Homo sapiens: one gene and its partners. The protein of the gene in region 1 interacts with the protein of each later gene in a pairwise test. Each region holds a gene or a part of one and is shown on either strand. Other genes may lie near its edges.

Evidence for each region.
Region 2: the proteins of ACO1 (region 1) and DSCAM interact in a two-hybrid assay, tested with the Homo sapiens proteins (one large-scale study listed by BioGRID and IntAct).
Region 3: the proteins of ACO1 (region 1) and CCDC69 interact in a two-hybrid assay, tested with the Homo sapiens proteins (one large-scale study listed by BioGRID and IntAct).
Region 4: the proteins of ACO1 (region 1) and MYBPC1 interact in a two-hybrid assay, tested with the Homo sapiens proteins (one large-scale study listed by BioGRID and IntAct).

The regions. Positions count from the first base shown.
Region 1 is NC_000009.12:32,386,783-32,392,449, forward strand, and holds part of ACO1 (cytoplasmic aconitate hydratase), read left to right. Parts: intron 1-5,667. UniProt on the Homo sapiens protein: Bifunctional iron sensor that switches between 2 activities depending on iron availability. Iron deprivation, promotes its mRNA binding activity through which it regulates the expression of genes involved in iron uptake, sequestration and utilization.
Region 2 is NC_000021.9:40,011,159-40,015,741, forward strand, and holds part of DSCAM (cell adhesion molecule DSCAM isoform CHD2-42 precursor), read right to left. Parts: intron 2,229-4,583; coding exon 1,876-2,228; 3' UTR 1-1,875. UniProt on the Homo sapiens protein: Cell adhesion molecule that plays a role in neuronal self-avoidance. Promotes repulsion between specific neuronal processes of either the same cell or the same subtype of cells.
Region 3 is NC_000005.10:151,186,093-151,190,675, forward strand, and holds part of CCDC69 (coiled-coil domain-containing protein 69), read right to left. Parts: intron 1,368-4,583; coding exon 1,294-1,367; intron 33-1,293; coding exon 1-32. UniProt on the Homo sapiens protein: May act as a scaffold to regulate the recruitment and assembly of spindle midzone components. Required for the localization of AURKB and PLK1 to the spindle midzone.
Region 4 is NC_000012.12:101,680,888-101,684,249, forward strand, and holds part of MYBPC1 (myosin-binding protein C, slow-type), read left to right. Parts: intron 1-1,716; coding exon 1,717-1,775; intron 1,776-3,362. UniProt on the Homo sapiens protein: Thick filament-associated protein located in the crossbridge region of vertebrate striated muscle a bands. Slow skeletal protein that binds to both myosin and actin.

The sequences.
Region 1 (5,667 bases):
TTCATTCTTTCAGTAGATTTTTATTGGCCACCTATTTCTCATGTGTCCAGTTATGTGCGGGATGCCAGGAAAGTAGTGAGCACAAAAGATGCAGTCCCTGTCTTTCTGGCAATTATGGTCTGATAGCTTTGATAACTGCTGGTTAATTGAGATAGTCTATTATATAGTCAGAGTGTGTACATGAAAGCTGGTCCTGTGTGAAGAGCAGTACCCCCTACCTAAAGTGTGCTTCAAAGGCATGTGCTGAAGAAACCAGTCCCACACTGTGAAGATGATGATAAAAACCAACGTGTATCACCACGTGCCTGGCAAAGAACTTCCTTTGCCTTCTTTCCCCCACTCTTCCTTCTACATAGGAAGTAATTTCCTGTGAGGCAGCCAGATTCACAGGGAAATTACCTCCAACCTGGTGCCAGTCACTGGGCCAGCCTCGGGTTAAGACACTTTCTCTGGGTCTCAGTGTCTTTGACTTTAAAATGAGGAGTTAGGCCATTGATAGTAAGTGTCCCAAGGAGCCAGTGGTTTCAGAGCTGGTTTATACTAGCATTTGTGCATATCTCTTCCTAACTCCGTGTTCAGTGGCAACACATTTTTTAGATTGAAATAAGCCATGGTGGGAATAATAACACCATGGAAATTGGCAAATGCTACATCAGAGCTTTTTTTTCCTCTTGGAGTTCAAGTTGTTAAACCTTTGCCAGCTGACACTGCTATTGTCTGAGCCAAGGTGCTTTTGGTTTGTTTTTTTAGTAGAAAACAGACTCTTTAGCCTAGACAAAGATCCTAGATATAGGGTGTATGATTCAAGTCCTCTAAAATTTTTGATAAGGAAAAAAATCTGTTTTCATCATATTCTAAAATATAGATCAGCAAACTTTTTGTGTAAAGGGACAGGTAGTGAAATATTTTAGGCTTTTTGGGTTATGGTTATACAGTTTCTATTGCAGCTACTCAGCTCTGGTGTTGAAGCACGAAAGCGGCAATAGACAACATGCAAACAAACAAGCATGGCTGTGTTCCAGTCAAACTTGATTTACAAAAACAAGGGCCAGCCATAGTTTGCAGACTCCTGACCTAGACTATCAGAACAAGAACCATGTTTCAAAGAGAGAGTTTTATGGAAAAGGAGATTCTTCAGGACTTTATGCGTGAATACCAGAAACTTGAGTCTCCAAGATGGACGTAGCGGGCAGTAGTAACTGTAGAGGATTTGGAATCAATCATGGAAGACTCCATAGTAGGTTGTTTAAAGGAAGGCCAAGTGTGTTGAAGTTTTGAGGACAGAGCCACATATGGGTCTTATTCCCAACTCCCTCCCTGGAGCCATCTCAGATGTTATGCTAGAATGGATGTACCTGCAGTCTAACCCGTTGTGTGAATTTTGCATATTATTATGCAAAAACTAGTAGTGTCTCTAAGAGCTGTCTTGATTCCAGGGGCAGAGACAAAGGAAATGTTAAAAAGGATGGAAAGGCCCAGGCACCGTGGCTTACGCCTGTAATCCCAGCACTTTGAGAGTCCAGATCGCTTGAGCCCAGGAGTTCAAGACCAACCTGGGCAACATGACAAAACCCCATCTCTACCAAAAATACAGAAAAAAATTAAAGCCAGGTGTGATGGCACATATCTGTAGTCCCAGCTACTTGGGAGGCAGAGGCAGGAAGATCACCTGGGAAGTCCAGGCTGCAGTGAGCCATGATTGCATCACGGCACTCCAGCCTGGGCAATAGAGTAAGACCCTGTCTCAAAAAAAAAAAATCCTCGTTATATATGTATATGATACATTGTAGAGTACACTGTGTGTGTATACCTGTGTGTATGCATATTTGTACATCTATGTGTACATAAGTTGTGTGCATGTGTCATTACATATTCCATTCCATGTATTTAAAGTAGCATCATGAATGTTTAGAAGATAGACCAGTAGCCAGTTCTGGGCAGTGGAATGAGGTAGAAGGAAGCCAGAGAACTTTTGTTACTTTTCATAATAACAGATGTGTGCCTATCTTATAAGGGAGGATAGCCTGTAGCATTCATATATTGCTTTTACAACATAGTAAACCTAAAATCCCAACAACGTATACTTTCGGAAGGAAAATAGAGTTATTTCTCTGATAGGAATGTTGCCACCATCCTCCTCCCCCAATTAAAAAAAACTGCTTTGTCATATCACAGCTCTGAACTTGTATATATAATATTAGTATAAAAATAAGAGAGAGACTCTCAAGTCAAAACATTTTATTTAACAGTATTAATGTTTGACTCTTGTCCAGGGTTAGTAATACTAGTTCAAAGTGTTCCTTAGCAAGCTATTGTGCAGCCTTTACACTGGTGTTACAAAATAGTGTTGTATAGTTTTTAAACTAAAAAAAGCATGTTACACAGCAGTATTTCCCTGTGATTCTGTATTTCTGAGGAGAGAAAGCATGTGCATATATGTACGAGTGTGCCCCTGCATGTACAAAGGCAGCGGATATGCCAAAACATTGAGTGCTTTTCTCTAGGTGATACAGCACACTTGCTTTTTAGATTTTCTTCATTTTAGCTTATCGGGGTTTTCAAGCATGAATAAATATTACATTTGACATTACCAAAATCAACCCCTACAGTATGTTTACACCTGGTATGTTGAGGACAGTTCTTCCATCTTTCTTAGGCTGTCTTACCACCAGCTTACCTGGTGGCAGACTCCAGCTACTGTCTCCCAGTGAGAAATGTGAGGAGTGTGAGGCATGGCGAACCGAAAAACAGGCACACTTACCATGTAGTCACATTGTGCTGTGTCTGCTTCCCCTGTAGAGTCTGTCTGACCTTGGCCTCGCCCTCTCACTTCAGTTGACTGGCACCATCAGCTGACCGTCTCCCTAGATCGACTGGCCTTCATTTCTTTTTTTTTTTTTTTCCTTTTCTCTATTTTTAATGGAAAATCTCAGACATACAAAGTGGGGAGGAGAGTATAAACCCTCAGCCTCAACGACTGTGAACAGTGATAATTGGCCAATTTTGTTTCCTCTATACTTTTTTTTTTTTTTTTGAGACAGCGTCTCACTCTGTCACACAGGCTAGAGTGCAGTGGTGCAACCTCAGCTCACTCCAACCTCCACCTCCCGGGTTCAAGCAATTCTTCTGTCTCAGCCTCAGAATAGCTGGAATTACAGGCGTGCGCCACCACGCCCAGCCGATTTTTGTATTTTCAGTAGAGATGGGGTTTCACCATGTTGGCCAGGTTGGTCTCGAATTCCTTACTTCAGGTGATCCGCCTGCCTCAGCCTCCTGAAGTGCTGGGATTACAGGCATGAGCCACTGCGCCTGGCTCTTCCCTTATACTTTTCTTCAACATCACCTCTTTTTCTTTCTGGCAAGAGTTGGCATCTTCATTTGCAGCTGTATAAATTAACGAGAATCACTTATTAGGTCTTTTAGGAATAAGCATGTATTGACTGCTGTAGCAAAAATCTTAAAACTGTTCTGCCCTAATGTCAGCCATACTGAACTGCTGAGGAGCCCCTGAACACTTGCTGCGCTATCCTGTTTCTCTACTTTGGTATTTGCTCTTTACTCTGCCTGTGCATCTGAATTCATCTTCCACTTCGTAGTTCTCTGTAAAGCCTTTCTTGAATCCCACTTGTAGCTGTCTCTTTCCTTTGACTTTTCTTATAACCCTCATCCTATTGTATTTGTGTGCTTATCTTAGTCTCCTTGTCAGATTGCAGTCTTCAAATAAGAGAAGGAATGTGTGCCTATCTTCTTTTCCTCTATGGTATTTAGCAATGCGTAATACAAAGAAGATACTCAAGAAATACATGCTAAAATAATTTGAATTGATTAAGTTCACTGGAGAAAAATTTTGAGTATAAAAGAAATCCATCACATTAAAAGAAAAATTTTCAAATATGACCTAGGACCAAGAACATTTTCTTTCATCTGTTTGGATTTTAAAAGATTTTAAAGAATCATGGTGAAAAGAGTCTTAAATTTGAGCCATGAAAAGAGTCTTAAATTCGAGCCAATATAAAAACGTAGCTTTCTAAAAAGAAAATGTTTTTAATGATCTTTTGTCATTTTTTCACAAATATATCTGGAGCCTGTGGGTCTTCTCTAATCATACAATGCATCCCCTCACCTCCCCCCACCAGGCGAAAGACCTGAAAAAATACAACTGAATAATATTGGGTCACTTGTATTGGATAAGAGTGATTCTTGACTATATTTTAAATACTTGTTTTAGAATGTATATTTAAATCTTCAGTAAAAGAAACAGGCTACATTTAGAGCTTACCATAGGTAAGTCAATAGCAATCTCATGAATTATGGTAGCTCACGGGGATATAGTTCCCAGAATATGCAGTGCTTTCGTGTGTTACCTCATTTAATTATCCTAGCAGCCCTTGTCATCTGGGCAGAGCAGTGCAGACAGACATTGTTACCTAAAATCTGCAAAGAAGTAAACTAAGGTTTAAGAATATAGAAGAAATCTTGTCCTCAGCAGCAAGTGGCAGAGACTGACTTTAAGAATCAATTGGAAACCAAGAGTCTTTGGGATTAGATGTTGCAAATATGTGAAGACGCAAAAGCATCTAAGCATGTCTTTGGGAGACGGAACAGGTTCTTGTGCCCCTTAATGCCATAGACCTATTGAAACAATATCACACTCTCTGAGCCAGTTGTTCCTCAGATTCCTCATGTTCTGCTGTTATCTTTGGTGTCAAAAATTAATCCACCTTAGATGAATTAGTAAGGCTGTTTGTACATGAGTGCTGGTGTGGTTCTCTCTCATCCTCTTGTCTTGATCTAAGGAGAACCCTGGGCAAGCCCATCTTTGGATAGTGTAACTTGTCTGGGCCACTGCTCGCAAAACAGACATGTATGGAACACTTAATTATTCAACATCCTTGTCATCCTTTCTATAACTGCTATTGTGGAATTACATGGCAAGTTGCAAGTTGTGGCATAGTTCATGAAGAAGAGGTGTCAGTCTAGGAAAGTATCCTCCTACATGATTACCAGGTTTGAATTTTTGGTTCAGAACAGATAAGATAAATAAGCCATTGCCAAGAATCTGCGATGTACAAGAGCTATGATGGGTGGACATTTGAAAGGTACAATTTTGTATTAACGGCAGAATCAAAAGTAGCCTCAGGATTGGTTTTAAGGATGTTATGTTTCATAAACCCTTATTTTCTTAGATAAGAAATCAGTCTAAGTGCTAATAATGCCTATATTATTTACATCAACCCATTCTTTAAAAGTTACCATACAAATTTTGCCAAAATCAAGGATGTTTTAGGGAACATGAGGTTTACCATCTCGTCCCCATATATGTGCTTTAGAGCTTGGAGATTGTTTTAAAATGAGATTTATTTTTTTTAAATGCATTTGGTTTTTTGGATCTTAATATGTTAAATGACTGTAAAATGATATCACTTGTGCAGCCTGTTGGGAGGAGCATGGTGCAAGAGAGTTGGTTCTGACATCAGGAGCCTGAGTTTGACTTCCAGTTTGGTCACTTACCAGCCATGAGACCATGGCAAGATACTTAGCCCGTCAGATCCTGTCTTCTCTCATGTGAAATGGGATGGTGATGCCCTTGTCACAAAGTTGCCAAGGGTCTGCATTAGAGGAATTGGATTAGATGCCTGGCACCCCACAGGCACTCAGCACATGTCT
Region 2 (4,583 bases), on another chromosome or scaffold:
TGAGAGTATGCAAACAGTACACGTCAACACGGATTACATTCTGAAACCATGGATGCACACCTCACATTCCTGGAGTCATCTAACACTAGCATCAGCAGGTGGTCTTGACATGGTCCTGGACCCATTCTGTGTCACTGAATCTAAGCAGACAAATGGGCCTGCCTGGAAAATAAATAGAAGGAAGAAAGGATGGGAAAGAAGGAGGGAGGGAGGGAAGGAAAGACATTTCTGAATATGTTCCCAAGATGGTAATAACTGGCACCAGTCTATGTTGGTGGCCTTAATGGAAGCCTGTAGAGAATCTTCAGCCTGGGAGACTGAGCAGCTGTGGATATTTGATCATGTTTTCTGGTTAATGCCAAATCTCTGACACAAAGACCTGTTTATCTTTCCATTTTATGGAAGTGAGCCTGGAATGGAGTGTTGCAGCCAGGGGAGGATTACATCCTCTTTCATAAAGCAAACCCTGTGAGGGTTGTGGGATAAAGAATGCAGTTCCGACTATTTATGAGTAAATTCTCTCTTAGGATGAGCCACATGGGAGATAAAGTGAGGGAAAGGAAAGTAAAAACTTAGATTTTAGAGGAACATCACTTTCCTCTGGTTACAGAGGATTCAGGCAATGTTTATTAAGATGGTCTATCACAAATTTGCATACCAGGCATAGTGGAGATAGGAAAAGTCATGGAGGGTAAGATGCACGATCTTGCCCCTTGTCACGCAAGCTGGGGCTACATTTCAGACTCCAGAGCACGGGTCTGGCAAATGTTTCCTGTAATGGGCCAGGTAATAAATATTTTAGGCTTCATGGGCTATACCATCTCTGCTGCAACTATTCAGCTCTACCATTGTGCCATGAAAGCAGCCATAGACAATAGCAAATAGTGCATGTGGCCTTGTTTCAATAAAACTTTATTTAAAAAACAGCAGGAGGCTGGATTTGGCCCATAGGCCACAGTCAGTTGAACTCTGGCCATGGGCAGGCAAGGGGCAGAGCTTTGCGACGGGCTTCGAATACTTGGGCTGGCCTCTGGTTGCGGTGGAGACCAGCCTGCATTTTGTCCTCTCCAGCTTGAGAGCAGGAGCTGCACCTTCTTTGTGCTTCCTGGAGATTCCTGAGGAGTTCAGGGTGTTAGTATCGACTCTGGTTTATTGAATTGGGCTCTGGGTTCAGGCCTGGTGTTTCCAAACAGAAGTGTCAATGGGAAGGAGGACCAGGCCACTGGCAGAAGACGAGAGAAGCAGACATGGAAATAAAGGCAGACAACCTTTTCTTTTTTATTTCGCTTAGACAAAATGCAAAGAGTGTCTCATTAAATTAAAAAAGAAACAAGAGAGAAAACCAAATTGATTCCCCCCACCCCTTCACTGACGGCACTCATCCTAATTAACAACAAAAGAAGACCAAATTGAGAACCCGGTTTCTAATGGGAAAGAAAGGTGTGCAAACGTGACTGAAGTTTTCCCCTGCCCGCAAATCGGTGTTCCTTTTAAATTCACAAATAGGCTGATTTCCCACCCACCCTGTTTTCTTTCTTGCCTCTTGTGTGATAGAACTTCCAGTCAGAAGGTTTAATTAATCCCCCCCATGCACTTTTGTAGAAAATCAGTAAAAATGCAATAGCCTGTGAAGATCATAAAACTGGACTTCTTTCCCAAAAAATCAGATGCCCAGGCGGATGGAGCTCACACTCAGACAGAAAAAAAGCAGGAGAGTCTTTGCACTGTCTGTGGTTTCAGTATTTTCTCTTTTTTTTTTTTAATATATTTTGGCAATTTTCTTTAATTATAAATATTGGAATTCCGTAAAAAAAAGGTAGCTTTGATTGAATTGTTTGAATTGTATTTACAACCGCTGTCCAGTCATGCTGTCTGTTATACCAGGGTGTAAGATTTTGCGTAAGGATTGTTTCCTTTCAAATGGCCCCGGGAGTCGAGCAGTGATTCTTGGGAGCTGCTCATTTTAGCTGCCTGTCCCAGCTCTGCTCCCTCCCGCTGAGGTAATGTGGCCACGGCCCCCGGCTGCCACGACTGTCCTTCTCTCGTGGAGGAGGCGGAGGAGGCGGCTTCCATCGGGATGGGCTCCAGGACCGTGGGGCGCTTCAGGGTCCGGCTTTTCTGAGGTTCCAAGCATGCTTGTCCTAAGCTCAGGTCCCTGCTGGTGCCTGGACCACCTCGGTTTAACAAAAAGTCCATTCTAAGGTATGGAGGCAAATGTATGAGGTCACCTAGAAGGAAAGACAGGGTAGTTAGTTGGTGTCTTCATTTGGTAAACATGGGCAGAATGTCCTGTGTGCACACGGGAAGCCATGCGGGCTTTAGAGATGAGAATGCCGCTGCACACAGGTGCCTTTCTCAAGATCCTCCTTCAGCGCTCACCACAAAGACAGGTGGAATCGTCCTCCTACCTCCTCCCTGGGCGCGGGAGGAGCTCATTTTCCTACAGTACTTACTTACTTGTATTAACTTACTTGTACAGAAATGGAGGAATGGAGGTAACAGAATCCTTCAACACACCATCGTTGAAAGAAAAACATACATCAAAGGCATCAGTGTCCACTGGGTACGAACGGTGATAGACCAAACCCCGCATGTGATTGGAAGTACAGGGAGAGCACAGGGTTTGAGGAGAGAGCCAGGGACGCCAAGCGAAGATGGACAGCTGGCTCTCGTCCTGGCAATTCTATGAAACCTTGTGACCTTGGCCAGCCACTTAGTTATGGGTCTTCATGATGGCTTTGGGTGAAAGCGCCACAGCTTATGGCCTTCTTACCAGGCCCTGCCTACCTGCTAACTTCTGCGTGGCTCTTCTGTTTCAGCCATGCTGTGTATAGAGATGACAGCAGCTTAGACCAGAATTCTAGTGTTTCTACTTCCTGCTTATGGTCACTCTGGCTTCTGTGGTGCCACGCAAACATAACCTCAGGTCTCCTTCAAGAGCATCTGCTGGCTGGGCACGGTGTGCCTCATGCCTGTAATCCTAGAACTTCGGGAGGCCGAGGCGGAAGGATCACCTGAGGTCAGGAGTTCAAGACCAGCCAGGCCAACATGGCAAAACCCCCTCTCTACTAAAAATACAAAAACTAGCCAAGCATGATGGTGGGCGCCTGTAGTCCCAGTACTGGGGACACTGAGGCAGGAGAATCGCTTGAACCCGGGAGGAGGAGGTTGCAGTGAGCTGAGATTATGCCACTGCACTCCAGCCTGGGTGACAGAGCAAGACTCAAACAAAACAAAACAAAACAAAACAAAACAAACAAAAAACCCAAACCAAAACAAAAAAACCAAGAGCATCTGCTGCAGGAAGGGAGGCATGTGTTCTCTGGGATGCTGCAAGCCAATGACAAGCGTGACAGGGCTTTTCTCATGGCCGTCCCCGCCCGATGCAGGATCTCCCTAACAGGCATCCTTTGCTCAGGGATACCCCATCAGCCTCACTGCAGCCTTCTCAGAAGTGCACCGCAGCCTGACGTGCCTCCAACCAATCCCTCCTTCGCCTTCTCCTCTCACAGGTGTCGGACCTCTGTTATGGTCTCCAGACTCTCCTTGCCACCTCCTGCTTCCTTTTGCTTCCTTCTTCACAAGAATTTCCCCAATAAATTCCTTGTGTGTCTAATCTGTCTTGCTAGGCGCTTCTCAAAAACCTGAACTGACACAGCTTCTTTCACCATCAGCTACTGAAAGGTCACCCTGACCTCTCATTGCCAAATTCTCTGGTTTCCTCTTCGTCCTCTTCCTACCTGCATTACTATAGCATTTGATGCCGTTGATATTTTTGTTGTTGGCCCTTTCAGCTGCCAGGGCACTGTGGTCTTCCAGATCTCTGCCTACATTTCTGGCCACCCTTTCTCACTTTCCTTGACTGGATCCTTTTCTCTGTCTTTCCTCTAAATACGGAGTGTTCAGTGGCCTGCTCTCAGGCCTCTCTCGGAAGGCTTGGCTGCTTTCCTCATTGCTTTATAAATAACATTCCCATCTATCTTTTCCATTTTGCTCTTTCTCCTGAGCCCTAGATGTGAATTTTAGGTGCTTTGCTAGGCATTTCCACACGAGTGTCCATCTGGAATTCTGAAGGCCACAGTCTACCAATTCAGTTAATGAAGGCCAACCCCATCCCCTCCCAATCCCAAATACTGCTTCTCTCCTGTGTGCTCCATCTTGTGTAACATTATCACCATCCTTCCATCCTTGAAACCTCAGAGGTTTCACTGACACCTTTCTCTCCAGGTTAATTCTACCGGCAAAATATCTCTTGACTCTTTTTTTTTTTTTTCTTTTTTAAACAAGAAGAGATAGAGTCTTGCTCTGTTGCCCAGGCTAGAGTGCAATGGTGCATTCATGGCTCACTGTAGCCTCAAACTCCTGGGCTCAAGCAAACCTTCCACCTCAGCCTCCAGAGTAGCTAGGGCTACAGTTACATACCACCATGCCTGGCTAATTATTATTCTTAAAATATTCTGGAGACACAGGGTCTTGCTTGGTTTCCCAGGCTGGTCTCAAACTCTTGAACTCAAGTGATGCTCCTGCCTCAGCTTCTCAAAGCACTGGGATTACAGACATGAGCCACCTGGCCTTGACTCCTT
Region 3 (4,583 bases), on another chromosome or scaffold:
TCCAGCTGTGAGGTCAGTCTGTCTATGGTCTCCTGGAGCAGGGAGTGGGATGGAGACAATCAAAGCCTGCCTCATAAATGCTGTAGGTGAACTTCGCCACATCCCAGAGGGAGAACGGTTTTGGGTTCTTCAATCTGTCTTTGGCTACTCTACATGACAATGCAACATCAACATACTTCGACCACTGCTTGAGATCTACCAGCCCTTACAGTGCAGAATTGCATGCTGGGAAGAGAAAGAAAGAAGAGAAAAGAAAAGAGGAAAGAAAAGAAGACGGGAGGGGAGGGGAGGGGGACGGGAGGGGGAGGGAGATAGGGAGGGGAAGGGAGGGGGACAGAGAAGGAGAAGGAGAGGGAGGGAGAAGGAGAAGGAGAGGGAGAAGGAGAGGAGATGAAAGGAACATACCAACCCCACCTCTTGCTTTAATGCCTTTAACGGCTCCCCATACTGCAGGGAACAATGTCCTGCTATAAAAGATGGTTGTTAGCCTGGCATTCAAAACACATCCAAACCAGGCTCAATGAATTTTTCCAAGCTCACCTCTCACTGCTCCTTCTATACATCCTCTCCTGCAGCCAAACATCACAATAGTCCCCCAGCTGCAGGGTACATTCTTATCTCCAAACTGTTTCACTGCCAAGAACTTTCTCTACTTGAACCGTGACCACTACCGTTAGGCTAGAGCACAACCCCTTAAGGTGGCTCACTGGCTTCCACTCTGGCCCTTGCTCACGTTCTTAGCCTTAGTCCCCTCTCCCACTGAAACTCATACCCCAGGCATCCTGGACATCTTTCGGTTCCTCAGGTATTCCATATTTTTCCTTTTTCCTCCATGTCTTTGAACACATTGCTTTTTTTCTGCCTGAGGCACCCTTCCTACCCTTCTTTACCAAAGAATTCCAACCCATCCTTCAGACTCCAGCTTAGATCTCACTCCCTCTAGGAAATCTTTCCTGCACAGCCACATTGAGTCAGATGCTTCCCTGCATCCTTCCACAGGTCCCTGTGCATCCACCCATGAATCTAATCACACTGTGGCACTTGGCCCATGCCTCTCCAAGATCTCCCCAGCAGTCCCTGGAAAAATAGGCCCAACTCAATTTCACACTCAGTCCTCTTGAGCTAATAGCCTGGTTACTACATCAAGGGGCCTGGATACACAGAAGGCAATCACCTCAGCCCCTCACTCCTAGGCACACGTAATCAGTTTTGGCTGCCTTGGGGCTCCATGCTGCTTTCCCATTGGTCCTCACTTACCCTTATCCAAGACTGACACGACCCAGCCCCTCTCACCTGCTGGGTAGAACTGGCCTCCCGGAAAGAGTGGGTAAGCGCTTCTTTCTCCTGTTCATATGAGGCCCGGAGGACTGTAGGGAAAGGAGAACTCCATAAGCTCAAGACACTTCTCCCCAAAGCCTTCTGCAGGCCCCTTGGTGGCCAGGAAGGTCCAGATATTTAACTGGGGCCCATAGAGGCCAGGAGTCTAGGAACGGTCTTATTCATCCTTCTGTCTCCTAGGCTTGCTTGGGGGCTGTGCCAGAAATGTACTAGGTATTTAATAAAACCTCAAGGAAATTGAAATAAACTATAGCCTGGGAGGAACGCTACCAGATTGCGGGTGCCATCCACACCTCACTAAAGCTAAGATCCAAAGATCTTGCAGGAAGCATGTTCACCTAAGACCACCTCGGGCCACGGAAAATGCATAGGACAATGCTTTGTAAACTGGATTAGCGAAATCACAAAATCATTAAATCCTTAGTTGTCAAACTAAAGCACAAAACTGCAGTAAGTACATTGGATTTGTGGCTAGGAAATCCACCTGGTCCTGGCTCTGCCTTTCCGAAACTGAGAGACCTTGAGAAGATCATATCAGACATCTAAAAGTCCAGTTACCTCAACTGTGAAATGGGATCAATAAACTGGATCTGATTGTCTCAAAGGGGTCATTTGAGGATCACATGAGAAGGACGTGCAAGGGCTTCACAGACAGGGCGGTGCTGTACACAGCTGAAATTATCGTCATTCCCCAAATCAATACAGTTGTATGTATCATCCCATCTCCTTCATAAAGTTCCTTTTGGAAAATTCCAACCTTGTCTCAGCTGAAAAAAGACAATGGGCAACTGACAATCAACGGGCAGAATGGGAAATAGAACAGAGGAGACAGGAAAGTATAATACAGCCAAAGAGCCAGGTATCTGGCAGTGATGAAAAAAATAATGTTCAAGGCCGGGCACGGTGGCTCATGCCTATTATCCCAGCACTTTGGGAGGCTGAGGTGGAAGGATCACTTGAGGCCAGGAGTTTGAGACCAGCCTGGCCGACATGGCAAAACTCTGTCTCTACTAAAAATACAAAAATTAGCTTGGCATGGTGGTGCAAGCCTGTAGTCCCAGCTACTCAGGATGCTGAGGCAGGAGAATGGCTTCAACCCGGGAGGCAGAAGTTGCAGTGAGCTGAGATCACGCCACTGCACTCCAGCCTGGGCAACAGAGACTCTGTCTCCAAAAAAAAAAGAAGAAAAAAATAATGTTCAGTAATATAACTGTGGTAGAGTAGTAAAAAATTTATAAGAATTTATCAATATATAATATTTATAAATATATAATATCAATTTATCATATAAAAATTACAGCCTTAACTTTTTAAAATTATTGGCCTAATTTGTTAATTTGCCTATCAAGACAGGTTCTGGTTTCAGGTAAGATGAAGGAAGCACACTCCATCCAGTTTTTCCTACTGAATGTAGCTATAAAACCTGGACAGAATGAATTCTGCAGTTATTTGCAGACTGAAAAGTAAATGGTAGCAGCAGACTGAGCAAGAAGACCAGAATTTGAAGTACCACTGACCCAACAGATTTAGACAAACCCAGAATCTCACGTATTTAGATATTTTAAATGTCCAGGATACAACCCCAAATTTCTCAGCATACAATACAAAATCACTCAGCCTAAAAAGAAGCAGAAGAAAAACTCCCTTGAGGAAAGATATTCAACAGATGCCTAAACTGAGATCCTATAGATGTAGGAATTATTAACAGAGTTTTTATGGTAATCAATGTAAAAAGACTCCAAGAAGTATGGGTGTTCTGTCACTGACGGCAAGAAGGAAAAAGAGAAAAGGAAAGTAAGAGTGAATATACTTTTAGGAATAATAGAAAAATAGAAAGTCTTAGCAAATAAATAGAGTTATTAAGAAGAACCAAAAGGAAATTTTAGAACTAAAAAGTATAATAAGTGAAATAAAAACTCACTAGGTGAAATCAATAGCAGAATGGAGATGAGATGATAAGAAAGAGCCAGTGAACTTCAAGATAGATCAATAGAAATTATCTGATCTGGACAATAGAGGAGAAAAAAAGATTAGAAAAAAAAATGAACGGAGCTTCAGAGACCTGTAAGATAATGCCCAAATAGCTAACATTACTATCATCACAGTCAAAGAATTAGAGGAAAAAGGGTGCAGTGCAAAAAAAAAAAATTGAAGAAAGAATGATTGAATATTCCACAAACTTGCCAAAACATAAACCTACAGATTAAAGAAGATCACTGAACTCCAAAGTAAGCCCAAAGAAATCCACACCCAGACAACATCATTTCCAAAAGCTAATGACACAGAAAAGGTGTAGAATGGAACCAGATAAAAATGGTACACTACATATAGGGAACAACAGCTTGAATAACTGTGTGTTTCTCATTAGAAACCTTAGAGACCAGAAGAAAAAAATTTAAAAACTGCTGGAAAATGTTGATGTTCATAATGTTGGGTTGAGGTCTACCATTTTAGGATGTGTTTTCTGTTTGTTCTCGCTGATCTTTATCCTCTGTTTTCTCTTTCCTGCTTTCTTTTGGAGTACAAAACCATAACAAAAAGCCCAGAATCCCATATGCAGTGAAAATATCCTTCAGGAAAGAAGATTAAATCGAGACATTCTCAGATGAAGGACACTTAGAATTCATCACCAGCAAACCTGCTCTAAAAGAATTGCTAAAGGAAATTCTTCAAATGAAACCAGAGGGAAACTTGAAACTTGAAACTTCAAGAATGTAGGAAGAGTAACAGAACTGGTAAAGACCTAAGTAAATACAATAGACTGTTCTTCCCTTGAGCTCTTTAAAATATGATTGATGATTAAATGCAAAAATTATAACCTTGTCTGATGGGGCATTAGATGTATGTAGATGTAATACATGAGATAAATGTAACAAAAATGGGAGAGAACAGAGGAACCTACATGACGGTAAGCTTTTTACATTCCATTAGATGTGGTAAAATAGCAATTTCAGGCCGGGCGTGGTGGCTCACACTTGTAATCCCTGCATTTTGGGAGGCCAAGGTGGGTGGATCATCTGAGGTCAGGAGTTCCAGACCAGACTGGCCAACATGGTGAAACCCGGTCTCTACCCAAAATACAAAAATTGGCTGGGCCTGGTGGTGGGTGCCTGTAATTTCAGCTACTTGGGAGGCTGAGGTAGGAGAATCGCTTGAACCCAGGAGGCAGAGTTTGCAATGAGCCCAGCTCATGCCATTGCACTCCAGCCTGGGTGACAGAGCAAGACTCTGTCTCAAAAAAAAAA
Region 4 (3,362 bases), on another chromosome or scaffold:
CTAGTGTAAAAATCCATCTATTGAAATGACAGTTGAGTAATCTGCACTATTTTTAATTAGTTTACTATTTTGTAAAGTTTGTTATTTTCTGATATTTATAGAAATAGTTTTGCTAATTAAGTGTTTGATATTACACATATAGAATATAGCATATACATATTATAACAGGCTGCTTTTCAAATCTCTAACTGGAGAACTTCCATTTATAGGTATACATTTCATTTATACTAGTTTTCAAAGTGTAGCAACTAATGTAAACCAAGAAAACACATAAGGATTTATGCGGTTGAAAAGCATAACCTGCCATCTTAATCAATTTTCAAATTAATCAACTACCATTTTTATGCTGATATTTTTCTTTACAAGCAGAACCTACTTTGGGACACCATGAAAACCCCTTCAAAGAGTCACCATTATGAGATAATAGGTGACATGATCCTAATGTGTTTTCTCTCATTCTTAACTGTATTATATTGCCATTCTGTAATAACCAAAATCTTTCTTTTTCCAACCTCTCTATAATGAAGAAATTATAATCAAAAACTAGTAAATATCTATTTTAGAAAATCATAGTAAATGCTTGGGTATTTATGTTTTTTAAAAAGAGTCTTTTAGTCCTAAATCTAGTATAAATATGAGAGGGAAACTTCTTGAACAAAATAACTTTCATATATATATATATATATATATATATATATATATATATTTTTTTTTTTTTTTTTTTTTTTTTTTTTTTTTTGAGACAAGGTCTTGCTCTGTCACCCAGGCTGGAGTGGAAGGGTGCGATCTCAGCTCACTGCGACCTCTGCCTCCTGGGTTCAAGCAATTCTCGTGCCTCAGCCTCTTGAGTAGCTGGGATTACAGGCATGCAGCACCACACCCAGCTTATTTTTGTATCTTCAGTAAAGACGGGTTTTTGCCGTGTTGGCCAGGCTGGTCTCAAACTCCTGGCCTCAAGCAATCCATCTGCCTTGGCCTCTCAAAGTGCTGGGATTATAGGCGTGAGCCACTGCACCCAGCTGCTTTCCTCTTACAACTTTTTAAAGCTGTATTCTTTCTTTCACAATTCATAATTGAGTGAAAGGAAAAAGATTTGATTTTTTTTTCCTCACAAATATAAGGCATATAATATTCTTAGAAAATTTCAAGCCTTACTATTGAGATAACCCTTACAAATTTAAACATTTTTAGCTGCTTTATTGGCTTTAAATGATTAAGTTCATAATTGCAAGTCATCTGGTTTCTAAACTGCTAGCCTTATTAGTTCCAAAGTATTGTTGATGCTTTTGTTTCAATATCCCCCCAAAAAACAAAAACTAAAAAAAAAAGTACCACTTATTTATGCTTTGAAACTAGCTGAATGTTGTTAATGATATAAAATGATGCTTTAACAAATGGAACAATATTTGGGGCCCTCCTTAAAAGCGAATAGTATTATACATATACATGATATATTCTTTTTAGTGAAAATGTAGTAAATGGTACAGTAATTAAATTTGATAAAAAGAATAATGTATTCTAGTACATAAGTTCGTAATAAAGTATCAATTGTGATATATTGATAAAAGCTTTTGGTCCTAAAAGTAAAGCTGAAATTGTTTATCATCAGACTGTTACTCTGATAATAGGTAACTTGAATCAAGTTGAGTTGTGAAAAAAGGTAAGAATGTCAACTGAGAATAAATAAATACTGGTACAAATATTCTGATTCTGCAGTGATATATCAAGGAGTAAATACCCCTGGACAACCAGTCTTCCTGGAGGGGCAGCAACAGGTTTAAAAAGTTTATATCCCACTGGATATTCTACTTTCCGTTCCATTCCTCTTACATGAAAATGCACCTTGCATGTAAAGCTTGACTTTCTCATTTGCTTTTAATTGTACCCCTTAGCAGCTCATGGCATACAGTGCTTATGCCATGAACAAGGAAGGCCAAATTATTCAAGGATATTAAGTAATGTAGAAACTAAGTTTTGTCAGAAAGCTACATACCATACCACAAGTCTCCATGAATAAAGCCAGAAAGCTACATTTGAAGATGATCTCGTTTTATATAATAAGACTATCAAAACTTGGGTATCAATATTTCTTTAATATTTTCATTTTTTAAATGTAGAGAGACTTTTTTAAAGATAGTTGACAGCATAGTTTCCTTACATTCATGATGCAATTCAGAGAACTGAACATTTCAAACATTTTTTTTGATGTTCTGAGCATTTTTTATGGAAAGAGGATACAAAAATAGATCCAATATTTAGAGGCTGGGCGTGATGGTTCTCGCCTATAATCCCAGCACTTTGGGAGGCTGAGGTAGGTGGATCGCTTGATCCCAGGAGTCCAAGATCAGATTGGGCAACATGGCAAACTCCCATCTCTACAAAAAGTACAAAACTTAGCCAGGTGTGGTGGCACATGCCTATAGTCCTAGCTACTTGGAGAGCTGAGGCAGGAGGATCACTTGAATCTGGAAGGTCGAGGAGGCTTCAGTGAGCCAAGATCTCCAGCTTAGGTGACAAAGTGAGACTTTGTCTCAAAAAAATAAAAAATAAAAAAAATAAATTGGGAAACTTACATATTTAAAATATTCCCATTACAAATTCACAAGTAGAATATCTGTAACCCATCTATCTGTTGAAGATTTTGGACATTTTCATGGGGACTCAAATTATTTCACGTTTATGAACTTAAAAGGAAAGAAAATTCCAGGCTCTATTACAAAATGTATCAAGCAATAAATGAGTACTATCATATATATGTGATTCACCCCCATTTGGAATTGCAAATTAAGAGTTTTTTGCAGCTGGGTATGCAACCTGATAAAAACCCTGATAATGTAGATCTATGCCTGAGTTTACAATATTTGTTTTGTGAGTTTCCAGAGATAATAACAGCTTTCAAAAGAGGAAAAAAGTAAGGTTCTTTTTTGAAAGCTTTGTAGATTGTATATAGAATAGCTTTGTAACATAAGGTTTTGTGTCTATTTAGATCAGTCATATATATTCCATGCAGAATACAATATTATAGAATACACTAGTCTAATATTTGTACTTGATAATTTTGCCTTTTAGAATTTCAACATATATATATGTACACTAACACTTTGTCTATTGTCTATGTTTTTCTTTTGTTGAAAAACACGATATATATATGTTGTAGGGTTTTGGTTTTTGTATTTGTTTTAAGCTAATGGTTTGGAAGCTCTTACCATAGATATTCACTATACAATCAGAATGACTTTGCCACCTATTCAGGCAAAGTAGTTGTGCATATTAATAAATGTTTTACATATTAATGATCCTTTTGACGTGACTGGATCCCCACCCTTCATTTCATGTGCTTCTATTTTCCTACATCTTTTACA